Linked DNA regions of Homo sapiens: region 2 is linked to region 1. Evidence: fine-mapped expression QTL. Tissue or cell type: whole blood. Region 1 holds a variant in brackets; the other region holds the start of a gene. All regions are shown on one strand. Distances are from middle to middle.

Evidence for each region. PIP is the estimated chance that this variant, and not a neighbour inherited with it, causes the effect.
Region 2: CALML4 starts here. The variant in region 1 is fine-mapped to the expression of CALML4 in whole blood (TOPMed, PIP 0.98).

The regions. Positions count from the first base shown.
Region 1 is chr15:68,056,712-68,067,131 of GRCh38, reverse strand. The region is part of intron 1 of PIAS1 (protein inhibitor of activated STAT 1); the gene reads right to left. Among named protein-coding and RNA genes, the nearest start is that of PIAS1, 7.6 kb to the right of the region's middle. The variant A/G (reference allele first, on the strand shown) is at 6,281.
Region 2 is chr15:68,202,335-68,207,334 of GRCh38, reverse strand. It overlaps CALML4 (calmodulin like 4), which reads left to right and starts at 2,003. Exons shown (of 5, transcript NM_033429.3): 1 at 2,003-2,090; 2 at 2,184-2,214. The coding sequence starts at 2,088. It overlaps CLN6 (CLN6 transmembrane ER protein), which reads left to right. Exons shown (of 7, transcript NM_017882.3): 7 at 1-343. RefSeq lists an enhancer at 1,010-1,304.

The DNA of each region.
Region 1 (10,420 bases):
GAGGCTCCAGACTCAGACCAGCATGGAACTAAGATCAAGGGTGAGGCACAAATCTAAAAGTGGAGATTAAGCAAAGTCTGCATACTCATAAGTGGGACACCTTTATCCTGCCTTGTTCCCCAAACATTATCAGCCAGGTAAGTAGCCTCAACAAGAGATTATAGAATTCCTCTCGGGAAAAAATGGACAGACCAGACCTACTCACACTTAGAAGACCATTAATCTCATTCCTGGGACTATCTAAATTCAGAGGTGAAGACTAATGGCAATTCTAAAATTCATGTTCTTTTCCCTGATTATGATTCAATTAGACACAAAATACTATACTTTTTTTTTAAAGGTCTTTAACCTTTAAGATGCTACCTGATTTTGAAATCACATATTAGAATAACTTCTGGGACAAAAATATTCCTTTTCCAGTCTTACTTTGACACCCTGGGGAAAGATGTTTAAGGAACAGAGGCTGAAGTTTTTCACACACCACTCTAAAGAAATGCAGAAAGAAACTGAAAAGCATTCAGAGTCTTACAATTTCTAGGTCCTGTTTCAAGTTTATCCCACAAAAGGGAAAGGAAAAAAACAAAATAGGTAGAATGCAAATCAATCATATATATTTGGTAAGAGCTAAGCTCTGCTGGAGAGGAAGTTCTTGGCTAATATTAAGTTAGGGAATTTTTCATTTATTCATATGATTCTTATATTTTACTACAGAAAAAGCAATCAGGCCAGGCATGGTGGCTCACACCTGTAATCCCAGCACTTTGGGAGGCTGAGGCAGGTGGATGATCTGAGGTCAGCAGTTCAAGACCAGCCTGGCCAACATGGTGAAAGCCCATCTCTACTAAAAACACAAATATTAGCTGGGCACAGTGGTGCGCATCCTACTCGGGAGGCTGAAGCAGAAGAATTGCTTGAATCCAGGAGGCGGAGGTTGTGGTGAGCCGAGATCATGTCACTGCACTCCAACCTGGGCAACAGAGCGAGACTCTGTCTCAAAAAAAAGAAAAAAGAAAAAACATAACCTTGAAAAAATTAAGTTATATATTTCCCACACCATTACTGATTACAAGTACTTCAAGCCAGGTGCAGTGGCTCAACACCTTGAATTCCAACACTTTTAGGAGGCTGAGGCATGAGGATCACATGAGTCTGAGAGCAGCCTGGGCAACACAGCAAGACCCTATCTCCAAAAAAAAAAAAAAAAAAAAAAAAAAAAGCTTTTAGTCAGCTGAGCATGGTGGCAAGCACCTGAAGTCCTAGCTACTCAGGAGGCTGAGGTGGAAGGATCATTTGAGCCCAGGAGTTCGAAGCTGCAGTGAGCCATGATCATACCACTGCACTCCAGCCTGGGCAAGAGAGGGAGACCCTGTCTCCAAAAAAAAAAAAAAAAAAAAAGTACTTCAAGCACATTCGTTCAGTGCAATGCAAGCTACTACCGTTTAGCATTACTTACAGAGATGCAGGATTTAATTAAATAACTCTGCTTAGCAAACTGCCTTGTAAGAGATCACTAGAAATAAATTTTTTCTTTTTTTTTTTTTTTCTCGAGACAGGGTCTCACTCTGTCACCCAGTTGGAGTGCAGTGGATCTCAGTTCACTGCTACCTCTGTCTCCCAGGATCAAAAAATCCTACCACTTCAGCCTCCCAAGCAGCTGGAACCACAGGTGCGCATCAACATGCCCAGCTAATTTTTTGTATTTTTGGTAGAGATGTGGTTTTGCCATGTTGTCCAGGCTGGTCTGGAACCCCTGAGCTTAAGCACTCTGCCTGCCTAGGTCTCCCCCAAAGCACTGGAATTACAGGTGTGAGCCACTGCCCCCAGCCTTATTTTTCCTTTTAAGTTATAAAAAATACCATGAGTGGGAAGGTGAAAGGGATCGTCCCATTTTAAATTAGGCACTGCTGTACTGTAAATTTTAAATTTTAAAAAAGATCAAGTTTTCAAAGTTTTTGCTCTTGGGACTCTTGAAAGTGGAGGACCATCCCCCCCGCAAAAAAACTTTATGTCGATTAAATCTATCAATATTTACTGTATTTGCAGTTAAAGCAGAAAACTTTAAAAGATTTGTCATTTAAAAAAAAATAATAGCTGGGCATGGTGTCTCACGCCGTAATCCTAACACTTTGGGAGGCCGAGGCAGGCGATCACTGGAGCCCCCGACTTCGAGACCAGCCTGGGCGACATGGCAAAGCCCATCTCAAAAAACAAATTAATTAATTAATCCATTACTTGTTAACATAAATCTCATATTTAAAAAATATTTTTAATAAAAATTAGAAGACTATCATGGTTTTACATTTTTGCAAATCTCTTTAACATCTAGCTTAATAAAGACATCTTGATTCTCACATCTACTTTTCCATTCAATCTGTGTATTAGATTGTTTTGGATGAAGAATATAAAGGAAATCTAGCCTTATGAAGCTCTATAGAGTTGGGAAAAAATAGAGTATTTTTATTAAAATGCTCTAGCCTTTTCAGATAACTTTCGATATTCTTTGATCCTTCACCAAAACACAACAAATGGCAGGTTCTTAAAGGCTGCTGCAACGCAGGAATCTGAAACCGTATCAATGAATATTTCCCACTCTGATAAACTGAAATTCATTGGTCTATCTTCCATTTCCAATGGATCTTTTTATCCAGGCATGATTTTGTAATATCATGCATTGGTTATTTGGAAAATATTAGTTCACTGAGTTATGCAGTTCTTCCAAATGTTGACATATTTCACTATGCAACTTCAACATAACACATTCATTAATATCACACTGATCTTATCAAAAAAGTCAAGTATTGGGAAACTGTCAAGCTCACAGTGGCAAATACATGTCTTCCAAAGTTCTATTTTCATTTGAAAGCTTAAATTTTATCATTAGTAACAAATATTGTCAGTTGTTTTCCCTGTAGTGACAGGCACACTTTGTTTATTTTCATGAAAATGTATGCCAAATACCCTAGTCTGTATAACCATACTTTGCCAGCCATTTTTTCAAGTAAAAATGGTATTCCATTTAAAAAGCTCACAACTCAACTGCACAAGTTCTTTTCCTTGAGTTAACCATCAGATTTGATATTCAATAAAAGTGTTTTACAGGTACTTTTCATTTCATCATACAAAATATATTTTTAAATGTACTCAAGGATTGAGATACAATAAAATTAGTAAGTTTTATTGCTTCATCAAGGACATAAAGTTTAACTGGCATTTTTTTTTTTAATTCCAAGTGCACAGTGATGAAGAACACAACTACTAGTACAATTTAGTACCAATGCCTTAATTTGTGCCAAGGTGCTGGCAGTTTTACCCACCACTGATTTTGCAAATGTCAGCACGTAAATAATGCCTATTATTAGGAAAATCATTTTGACCTGGAGAACCCTCAGAAAAACTTCGGGGAACCACCAGAGGCCTGAGAAATAGACTTTGAAAACCTCTGTAAGAACTGATGCATTACTTGTATAATTTTTAAAAAGATAATTTTTAGTAAACATTCCGCTATAACAGAAATATTTAAATAAATATACACACATATGTGATAATATATTAAAATCACCAATAACCTGGTACCTCATACACAGCAGATACCCAAAAATATAATAAATAACAGAATGTGATAAATAATTCTTTAATAAATAACAATTACTGAGAATCTACTATAAGCCAGTTTCTGAGCCAGTTCTGTGCCTCTTCAGTCCCCTTCTTGGGTAACTTACAGAAGCCCATAGACCAGAATGATGATTTTAACATATGAGAAAAAATATTTACTCTGAAATCTTTCCAATCTTTAAGATTAGACTTGCATGACTGCAAGAAAAAGTCTTAAAATTCACCATAAAGCACAAGATAGCATGTTAAGTTCTATTTTAAGCACTATGCCATGAGCTTTTTTAAAAACAGGCTTGCTCACATTCAGAAACCCAAATACAAAATGAATTGCTTTGGCTGAGCACTGCCAGAACTGCATAAAGACCCTGCATTCCATTTCTCCTCAAGCTATACAACCCTTACCTGTGATGTTTTCATTCCTATTGTTAAGTGAAACTCCAGCATTAATACTACAGAGGTTACATTAAATGTGGCAATTATTTTTTTAAAAAAACCAGTAGTGTATAGCAAAACCATCAAAACAAGTTGTTAAGAACTTTTAACCATATACACTGATAAATTCAAGAGGTAAATCTCTATAAACATACATAGGAAATATTACACACTGTTAAAAAGAATGAGACCATCTCATTGTCTGGACATGTCATGGAAAGATCTTCACTATCTATTGTAAAAAAAAGCAAACTGTAGGATGCTACATATGGTATGGTCTCACAGTTTTAGAAAAGATATTTATGTACATGTACATTCACTTAAGTTCCTTCTATGTGCCTAGTTTTGTTCTCATCTAGACATACACACACACAATAAATTAAAAATATTATACAGACATACACATTTAAATGCCCATGCAGAGAAAAAAATGAATACAAGACCAGACACAAAAAGTGACATATTTTTATTCCATTTATATTAAATGCCCAAAATAGGCAAGTCTACAGAGACTCAAAATAGATTATCAGTCGCCTAGGGCTAAGAGTGAGGTAAGGTTTGGGAAGGGGATGATGCTAAAAGGATGTAGGGTTGCTTTTCGAGGTGAAAAAATATTCTAGAACTGATTGTGGTTAATGGTTACACAACTTTGTGAATATACCAAAAACTACCTGACTGTGCACTTTAACGAGGTGAACTGTAATGGGATATGTTAATTTTATCTCAATAAAGCTGTCACCTCCCCCTGCCCACCCAAATAAGAATACACAGATATACACCAAAATGATTCCCTCTAAGAATGAAGATGATGAGGTCTTTCCATTTTTACCCTATTTACTGTTAGATCATTACAATGAGAAGTGTAGTCACTTATTATCTCTATAACTTAAAATAATGTAAAAGGTAAATCTAAAACAGCCCTTGATAAATTATTCTGGATTTAATGTTATTCAAGTTCATCTAAGCAGCAGCAAGAAAAAAGAGCGAAGATATGACCCTAAAAATATTTTCAATTTAGATTGTCTTATAGACAAGAGTATCAGGCCCCAGTCTCTGACAGAAACAAATCTTAAACATAATTTGTTCATCTGACACATGTATATTAAAAACACCTATTGTGTCCACAGGGTAGGGATGGGAGAATGGGGGGTGTACAAACAGAACACCAGCCAACAAAAAGACGCAAACTAACAGCTCTGGCTTTAAGTTAAGGGCTTTTGCTATACAGCTGAAGAGACAAAACACACACACAAAGTGGAATGGGGCCAGACAATAGAAAATCTTGAATACTAGACTGAGAACTAAGTCTTTATCCAGTTTTCGATAGAAAGCCATTCAAAGTTTTTATAGATAGGAGTGACAGAATGAAAGGAGTGTTTTGGTGAAATTAACCCGGCAACCAAAGCGGGTAAACTGAAAGCAGTGAATAGCAAAAAAGGTAAAAAAGAGATTAAGTTTTCAAAAATAGGAACGTTTACAACAGTCCTATGAGAGTTACTGATATCTCCATCATTAGTTAATATTCAAAGGATTTATGTTTGTTTTGTTTGCTTGATCTAAAGAAAAGCTGAAAAATAAAAAGGTGGTTTCTTCATTTTGACGAATTTTAGAAGTTCATAGCTAAGAATGAAGACTTACCAGAAAACTCTGAAGGAAGGGTTCTAGGGAATTTTCTTTTCATGTGACACTACTGAAACCAAGAGTAGAGGGAATCAAAAGTAACAGGAGTTGCACAATTTTTAACATGGAAGGGGAAATATAGTCATAAACATCTAGCAAAAAGTGCAGTGGCAATTAATACTACTTCTGAAATTGATGGTTAAAGACAACTAAGTACTTTAAAATTGTCTCTACTGCCTATTTCAAAGAAATCCTAATGATAAAACGTTACATAAATACAGATTTAGGTGAAGACCAAAGTCGAACGAATCAAATTTAGAGTACGATCAATTTCAAGTTCCTTCTACATGCACTACTTTTCAGATGTTGCACAAATAGCATTCTTAATTCACATATGCATTTATTAATTGGTTTAACTCATAAAGGTTTTTTCTAAAAATAAAAATGCTTTCATTGCCTATGTTATCTTTCTAAAACCAGATCCTGGGCCAGGCACGGTGGCTCACGCCTACAATCCCAGAACTTTGGGAGGCCAAGGCGGGCAGATTACGAGGTCAAGAGATAGAGACCAACCTGGCCAACATGGTGAAACCCTGTCTCTACTAAAAATACAAAA[A/G]TTAGCTGGGCGCAGTGGCGCATGCCTGTAATCCCAGCTACTCGGGAGGCTGAGGCAGGAGAATTGCCTGAACCCCGGAGGCAGAGATTGTGGATCCTTGAAACTATGTTACCTCCCAATTTAAATGGCAACACTTTGTTTTGAGATTAAAAATATGGTAAAGTCTTATTTCCATTTTCTCTATATTAATGTTCAGTATAGTGTTTGTTTTTTGGGGGATTTTTTGTTTGTTTGTTTTTGAGACGGAGTCTCACTCTGTCGCCCAGCCTGGAGTACAGTGGCACGGTCTCAGCTCTCTGTAACCTCCGCCTCCCAGGTTCAAGCAATTCTCCTGCCTCAGCCTCCTGAGTAGCTGAGATTACAGGTGCGCACCACCACGCCCGGCTAATTTTTGTATTTTTAGTAGAGATAGGGTTTCACCATGTTGGTCAGGCTGGTCTCGAACTCCTGACCTCGTGATCTGTCCACCTTGGCTCCCAAAGTGCTGGGATTACCACGTCTGGCAATGTTCAATATAGTTTTAAAATGCCAGTTAAAAACTGATAAGCATCAGCTGGGCGTGGTGGCTCACACCTGTAATCCCAGCAAAACAAAAAAAACTGATAAGCATCTAAATAAGGTACAAAAACTTGCAATATGTGGTCACTGTGATATAATTTCCAAAATCAAACATACTTGCCTACTTGAAATTCTACTATTCATAGAATAGTATGAATAGATTATAAAATACTACTTCATAATCGATTTCATACTTTATCAAACATTCTGATGCTGAAGTAATGTTTGCTTACATTTTGTAAAACCTGTATCTGCCATCATTTAATAATCTTATCTCACATATTACAGAAACATAAACAATAAAGGTATGACAATGAACAAACCAAGAATGACTAATTTATTTCACTGACAACATTTTAGCTAATTTTGTAGAGTGGGTGCAGTGGCACAGTACCTCACACCTGTAAAAACCGAGCACAGAGGCACAGTGTCTCACACCTGTAATCCCAACACTTTGGGAAACCGAGGCAGCACTGTTTGAGGCCAGGAATTTGAGACCAGCCTGGGCAACACAGTGAGACCCCTGACTCTACAAAAATAAAATAAACATTTGTATTGCTTTCTTTTTTTTTTTTTTTTTTTTTGTTTGAGACGGAATCTCACACTGTAGCCCAGGCTGGAGTCCGGTGGCGCAATCTCGCTGCAACCTCTGCCTCCCAGGTTCAAGCGATTCTCCTGCCTCAGCCTCCTGAGTAGCTGAGATTACAGGCGCCCACCACCACGCCCAGCTAATTTTTTGTATTTTTAGTAGAGACGGGGTTTCACTATCTTGGTCAGGCTGGTCTTCAACTCCTGACCTCGTGATCCGCCCACCTCAGCCTCCCAAGGTGCTGGTATTACAGGTGTGAGCCATGGCATCCGGTCCTGCATTGCTTTCTAAAGCACAAAAAAGATCTGTCATATCAATATATTTAGTTAAAATAAAACATCTGCAAACTTTGGTACATGTCTGCAAACACACTGCAAAAAAAGGAGAATAATCTGGGCCTGGCGCGGTGGTGGCTCACGCCTGTAATCTCAGCACTTTGGGAGGCCGAGACGGGCAAATCACAAGGTCAGGAGATCGAGACCATCCTGACCAACACGGTGAAACGCCGTCTCTACTAAAAACGTACAAAAAAATTAGCGGGGCGTAGTGGCGGGCACCTGTAGTCCCAGCTACACCGAAGGCTGAGGCAGGAGAATGGTGTTAACCCGGGAGGCGGAGCTTGCAGTGCGCCGAGATCGCGCCACTGCACTACTGCCTGGGCAACAGAGGAAGACTCCGTCTCAAAAAAAAAAAAAAAAAAAAAAGTAGAATAATCTGACAGGGACTAGTTTAATAAAACACAATGTAAGGTTTCAAATGATCATATAGACCTGTATTTACTAACCTGGATAGACATGAAAATAGCAGATTATAAATAAAAAACAGTGTTGTATCTTTTTATGATGAATATACATATACATATGCTCACAGAGAGAAAGTCTTAAGTGGATAAATACCCAGATGTTAACCATGATATCTCTGAGTGTTGGGATTACAGGTACTGTTTATTTTTCTGCTTACTTCTCAGATTCTCTGAAATTTTCTCAAGCAAAATGATACTTACAAAAATTAATGTGTATGATTCCAACTAACAAACTCCAAACTTTTTGCAAGGAAGCTTGCAAAATGCCCTAGAATATCCAAAAATACCCTAGCATAGAGCTTTTCCAAAAGGGAAAGTATCAGCAACAACATAAGTAGAAATCTGTGAACTGGGCACCCTAGAGGACTCCAGGTCTGCTGTAGGACCTTTAAGGAGGACTACACAAGACCTAGGCTCAAGTCCCTGCCACTTTTATTTGTATGACCTTGCAATAGTCACGTACCCTTTCTGGGCTCACTTTCTCTATCTATAAAAAGGATTTAGTTATTACTTGCCTTTCCTACCTCAAAGAACTGTTGGAAAGATCAAAAGAGATAATGCAATATATTATGAACTGCAAAGTACTATATAAGTAAGATATTATTATTCAAACATTAAAAAAGCAAGATGCTTCATGCCAGAGTCAAACACTTCAGAAAACACCACAATCAATTCTATGAAGTAATGAATCCGTTTTTGGTTGTTGTTTTGAAAGGCTACATCTCATCATAAACACCCAGTTTTTCTGAGACTTGGATACTTTTTCCCAGTTCCCGCTACAACCATTGGCCATTTTATTTTCTTATCCCTGGTTACCAGCAAAAAAGGGTACAAATTACACTAAACTCAAAAGCCTCAGCAAGAACCCTGGAGCAGCATGCTGATGGAGTTCACCAGGAGACACCCAAGGTTAATCAGCTATGGACTCGCCACTAAGCACTACCGCAATCAACAGGGATTACAAGAAACTCTTTGAAGAAAAAGACAATGGGATCGCCCAGGAGAAAACGGTGGATGAAAAGAAGGAGGTATTTCAAAACAATCATATGAAATACTTAGAAACTATACGTAGTATTTTATAAACTATACTGTAGAGTTTTTAAAATACTGTTGATAAAAATAATGACATAAAACAAAAGCCATCTAAATGTGGCACTTGACAAAAGCAAGTTATAGAGATTCAAATCAAATCCATGAATAAACTATCAGATGTACTTGACTCTATCTGAAATAAAAGCAGACAAATTACAGCGTAAGGATCAAAATTAAGTAGCTATTTCTTGAAAATAAAGAGGCAGAAAATAACAATAGAATTCACTGACACACTCATAGTAACTTTTATAATTATGGTTTCTCTTCCCATTTAATTTCATTATTTACTCCACTAAAATGCTGATGGACTTCTTCTCTCCCACTCTTCTTCCTGTAAATTAAAATGGCACTATAACTTGGTTTGAGTTTTACTCCAAAAAAACACATATTTTTTTTTAAATTACTTTAAGAGGAGTTTCATGAAGCTGTCAGCTTATTAACTACCAAGATCATCTGGCCATCACACCCTCCTGCTTCTAAGTTCCTAAAGATGACAAAATACCCTCCACATTCTTAAAAATGACATTTATGGGTACTCCCCTAATGAAAAATTAAACCTTTCATAAACAAATGTGCATAGAGAATTCATTTTGATATGTATGACTCACAATCTAATTTTTATTGGCAATATCTTGAAGTGTTGCAGCTTGCACAATTCCTACAGGGGATAAAGATCTATCTGTTTTTCCCATCTGATCTTTGCACATTTCTTATAGATTTAAAAGGACTCACTAAAAAAGCCATGAGGAAAATAATTATGAATACAATCCACAGCAAAATGAAGTATGGGGCTGAAACCTAAAATAATGAAAAGTCACTGAGTTTTATGTAAAGCTTCACAGTTGAAGTACTCTATTCCCATTTAAAATTTCAAAAAATCTAGATTTTTTTCTTCTTACTCTGATTTTTCCTATCATATTAGGAATGTATGATATTTACCTCCAAAAAATCACAAACAAAAAGCCTTCAGAAAATATCATTTCCAAAAGGAGTATCTGCCAAACCTTACTGCACAGAAAATTATATATACACATTCTCTTTTTTTTAACACATTCTCAAATAACTATGGTAGGCGTTCCTGAGATCACCTCCTCCACCC
Region 2 (5,000 bases), 140 kb before region 1:
ACTGCGGCACGCGCTTCGGGCAGCCTAGCCACAGGCTTTGAGCGCCTGCATTCCTGGGGGCTGGAGGGTGGGGTGCCAAAGGCCCTGAGCAAAAGCCAGAGCTCCTCTCATCAAAGCCTTTACAAGGTGCTGGGCCCAGAGGCTTTGCCTTGACAGAGTGGCCCAGGGTTTCAAGGGAGGAGGAACCTCCCCCTACCTAGGACCCTTCCTGTGGGGGGTCTACAGAGTCAGGGACAGAAGGGAAGGGACCCACAGGAAGTCACAGTGGTGCCCAGGGATGTGTCAGCCCCCAGCCACGGGGACGCGGGATTCAAGAATGAAGTAAATACAGTCACAGCCCCAAGTGGTGTTAGAGGTGTTTTTTGTCTTTTCTCCCTTTCGTGCTGAGGTGTAGCACACACGGTGCGCCCTACAGCATGGTGAGTTGCTGTATCGTGAACCCTCACGCAGCCATTGCCCCACGCTGGTGTTTTCCATCTGTGCGTCACCCCCGGAGACACCTACACACATAAGGAGGGAGTTGGCCGGGGCACCCCAGCACACACTGGCCTAACTCCAAGGAGGCACCTCATCTCTTCTGGAGCCCCTTCCCACAGGCAAGGGGATTCAGAGGGAGCATGTTGGCCTGGCCGCCTTCAGGCTTCCAGAGTCCCAAGTGACTTTCCTTGATGTCCTTCTCTCCATCCTCTGCACAGAGGCAGCCTTCCCTCCTCTTATCCCTGCCATGGGGTTTGGGAGGGGGAGCCTCAAACTCTGACAGGGAGGAGTCGGAGTCCCCAGCTAAAATTCTCTGGGTCTAGAAACAGGTGTAAAGCGATTCTGGGGATGTGATTTGGGAGAAAAGCACACTTTCCACACAGAGGCGGTCAGGAAAGGAGCGGGGAGGGGAGAGTGGGGCACAGGCAGCGCCTCCCGTCTATGCGCCTGTGTGCAAAGTGGCACAATGCCCCCCTTCCTATTGGCAGTGCAGCCCCTGGCCAGCAACCACTCGCACCTGGGCTGGGGGCCTTTGTGTAGGGCACACCTGTGCAGCCACACCTACTTGTAGAGCCTCATAGACTCAGCTGTGGACAAAAGCCTCACGCCCCAAACAGGGAAATGGGATCTCAAGGGGAAGAAGCTGGGGAGGCCTCACACCCTGCCCCCATTTCCTCCTATGTGGGGGAGGGGAGCAGCACGAACTCCTGAAGACTTGGGAGCGTCAGCAGCTTCTGCGGAAGGGGTGGGGCTGAGGGTGGAGAGAGGAAGGGAAGGAAGAAAAGGGGAGCCTTCCTGGCCAGGGTAACCGGCACTAAGAGGCCTCACTCCAAGCCCCCGAGGAGCCTGTGGTGGGGCTGGAGACCCGGCTCAGGCCCCTCCACCACCCTTAAAGTCCTCAGAAGGTGGGAACTGAACTGGCACAGGATGGGAACCGGCTGTGCGCTGGCCACTTGATTTTGCCAGCTGCCCTGTAATTCAGCTGGTGAGGAAACTGAGGCACAGACTGAGGTAGAATGATTCGCCAGTCACTCAGCAAGTCAGCAGACGGGGAGGACTGAATCCCAGCCTGAGAGCACCGAAGCTTGTATCCCTGCAATACCGAGCCCCAAGCCTGCGAGCCCCGGTGCCCATCTCTGAGTTAGGCCGTCTTGGAAGGGTTCCCTTCCTCCTACAAGATGGTGTGTGAGGAGCCTTCAATACGACCCGGGGTGTAAAGTGTCCAACTCTAGTAGGGGCCTGATGGCATCCCCGCCGAGTCCCAGGAGAGAGAGAGAAGACCCCTTCCTGGAGTCCAGGGCTCCCGGGAAGAAACACTGGCATTTGTCCCTTTGCTTCGGCTTCTGGAGGCAGAGACTCTGAGCCCAGGGAGAGCCTTCTGCAGCCCCATTTCCTCAAAAATCCAACCTGCCCAGGTGGCGGGTCATGAGCTGTGCTCAGGAAGCTGGAATCTGACCCTGGTGGCGTCGGGCCCAGTCTCCATGGCAGCCGAGCATTTATTACCCGGGCCTCCACCCAGCTTGGCAGACTTTAGACTTGAGGCTGGAGGAAAGGGAACTGAACGCGGTTCTGGGAGCAGCAAGCCCACGGGTAGCAGCCGAGGCCCCAGAATGGTGAGTGTGAGGGTCTGTGTCGGCCTGGCCAGGGCTGGGGGCGTGAACCTCAGGTGGAGCCCTCCCCTGACTGTTTTCCTTTCTCTGCTGCAGGCCAAGTTTCTTTCCCAAGACCAAATTAATGGTAGGTTGGGTTTGTTCTTTGATTAGCAACTCAGCAAAATATGGGTCTCATTAGGCAATTTGCTCTGCTCATGTTTTCTTGGTGGGAAGGAAGGTGGCTGTGGGAGAGCTGGGCCCACCCAGGGCCAAGAGCTGCGGGGAGGCTGCTGTTGGCGGGGTGGGGGTTGGGGGTAAGCCTCCAAAATAGACATGTGGCTTTATACTTGTCAGTGTGACTTACAAGCCAGGGCGCTAAGACAGAACTTACTAGGTTTCCCTCCAGAACCTGACCAGTTGGATTTGGGGACTGAGGGGACTGGGGATGGAGAGAGAGACCATTAAAGGTATGGCTGGCAGCAGGGAAAGAGGAGGGGCTTTGTAATTGAGACAGAACAGAGGCCAGGTCTGCACTCTCTGGCAGGATGCGTCTACTCTCTGCGCCTCAGTCTCCCTATCTGTAAAATGGAGGGTCCACTGAGCCCCCTTTGCCCTGGCATCAAGCCTGGTTTGGGCGTGAGCACTTTATTCCCTGGGTCCCCTACTCTGCCAGCCCTCGACCAGGCTTCAGTTTCACACCGTGCAGGGTTCTATTTCCAGAAGGCCAAGAGCAAAGAGTTGCGTTACAAAGAACTTGGGGGCCCAGACCTGAGCCAGGGGAGCCTCATGGCTGCAGCCCCCCTGCACCTGGCAGGAGAGGCCCAGGAGGCACAGCCAGCTGCTGCTTGAGGTTGTGACCCTGAAACCTGTCCCAACAGTGGACGTCAATGGGCCTGAGAGTCCCCCGAGGCATCCCATTCCTCCAGGTCTTTGCTGAAACATCGCCTTCTCAGTGAGTCCTTCGCTGACCACTGGAGATAAAATTACAGGCACCTTGGGCCCTTGTGATCCAGGGTAGGGTCCTGAGAGCCCAGCCAAGTGGGGTTAGGGTTACCTGGGCAGGAGTTCCAGAGTTCTGGGTATTCTGAGCTTGGTCCAGAGGGGCAGGAATTGTGAGCTCCAGGTGGGCACCTCCACGTAGAACCCTGGAACTCTTTATCCCAAGAGGAGGGCCAGGGCAGGAGCAGGGACTTTTAAAACACAGGGCCCGGGGCAGTGCCCTCTTGTCCAGGTCTAACGGTGATAATGAATGGTGGACTGAGGGCTGGAGTCCAGCCTTCAGCCTCAGCATCCTCCCACCCATGCCTGGTTTTGAGGCTCACTGACCCTCCCTCCTGGGATAGCCAAAGCTCCCAGAAGGGAAGAAGGTAAATTGTCTTTGTATCCCAGTATCTGACACCAAGAAAGTGGCCACCAGTGTTTAATGAGTGTGTGAAAGACTGGATGGGGTGGCCTAGCGAAGTGGGAAGAACAGGGGCTTTGGAGGCAGCAGACCTGAAGCCTAATCACCCTTGAGCCTCGGTTTTCTCACCTATGAAGTAGGATATGCCACCTTACCAGGCTGCTGCGAGCCACGGACAGAGGGGAATAATGTCAGTTACATGCTGGACGCTGGGCCAGGCATAGCCAGGTGTCACCCACATGTGGGCTGGGGCTGGCTCACTACAGCTAGCAAGAGCCATAGTTTTAGGAATTTTGCAAGCAGGATGTTAAAGCCAGCCATTATTAAATAATGTAGGATCAAACAGTGTTTCAATCCCTACATCTATCTGTACAAAAAGTTAAAAAGACAGCCCTATTGTGATCAGTGGAGATGGAGATTTGAAAGAAGTTTCAATTTAATGAATGTGTTTGGTAAAAGGGTGAGAAATAGTTTAACAGTAGATCACATCAGGTTTAATGACCATTCATTCATTGGAAAAAGAATCGCACTCATTGGCGCGCAGCTTCATTTGTCAAATCATGGTTGAATCGAAACTATAGGTTGGCAATGGATATAAGAGTTGGCAAAACTTGGGCTGAGTGCAGTGGCTCACGTCTGTAATCCCAGCACTTTGGGAGGCCGAGGCATGTGGATCACCTGATGTCAGGGGTTTGAAACCAGCCTGGCCAACATGGTGAAACCCCATCTCTACTAAAAATACAAAACTGGCCAGGTGCAGTTGGCTCATGCCTGTAATCCCAGCACTTTGAGAGACCGAGGGAGGCAGATCACCTGAGGTCAGGAGTTTGAGACCAGCCTGGCCAACATGGTGAAACCCTATCTCTACTAAAAGTACAAAAATTAGCCTGGTGTGCTGGCAGGCACCTGTAATTCCAGCTACTCAGGAGGCTGAGGCAGGAGAATCACTTGAACCCAGGAGGCGGAGGTTGCAGTGAACCGAGATTGAGCCACTACACTCCAGCCTGGGCAACAAGAGCGAGACTCTGTCTCAAAAAAAAAAAAAAAAAAAAAAAAGCCGGTCATGGTGGCACATGCCTATAATCCCAGCTTCTTGGGAGGCTGAGGCAGGAGAATCACTTGAACCTGGGAGGTGGAGGCTGCAGTGAGCTGAAATTGTGCCATTGCACTCTAGCCTGGGCAACAAGAGCAAAACTCTCTCAAAAAAAAAAAAAAAAAAAGTTGGCAAAACTCATTTGTGGTAATCAAGTGGCTAGATGGAATTTATTTATTTGAGACAGAGTCTTGCTCTGTGCAATGGCATGATCTCCGCTCATTTCAACCTTCACCACCCAGACTCAAGGGATTCTCCCACCTCTGTCTCCTGAGTAGCTGGGACTACAGGCATGCACCACCACACACAAAACATTTGTAAATATTTTGTAGACATGAGGTCTTACTATATTGTCCAGGCTGGTCTCGAACTCCTGGGCCCAAGCGATACTCCTGTCTCACCCTCCCAAAGTGCTGGGATTACAGGCGTGAGCCAC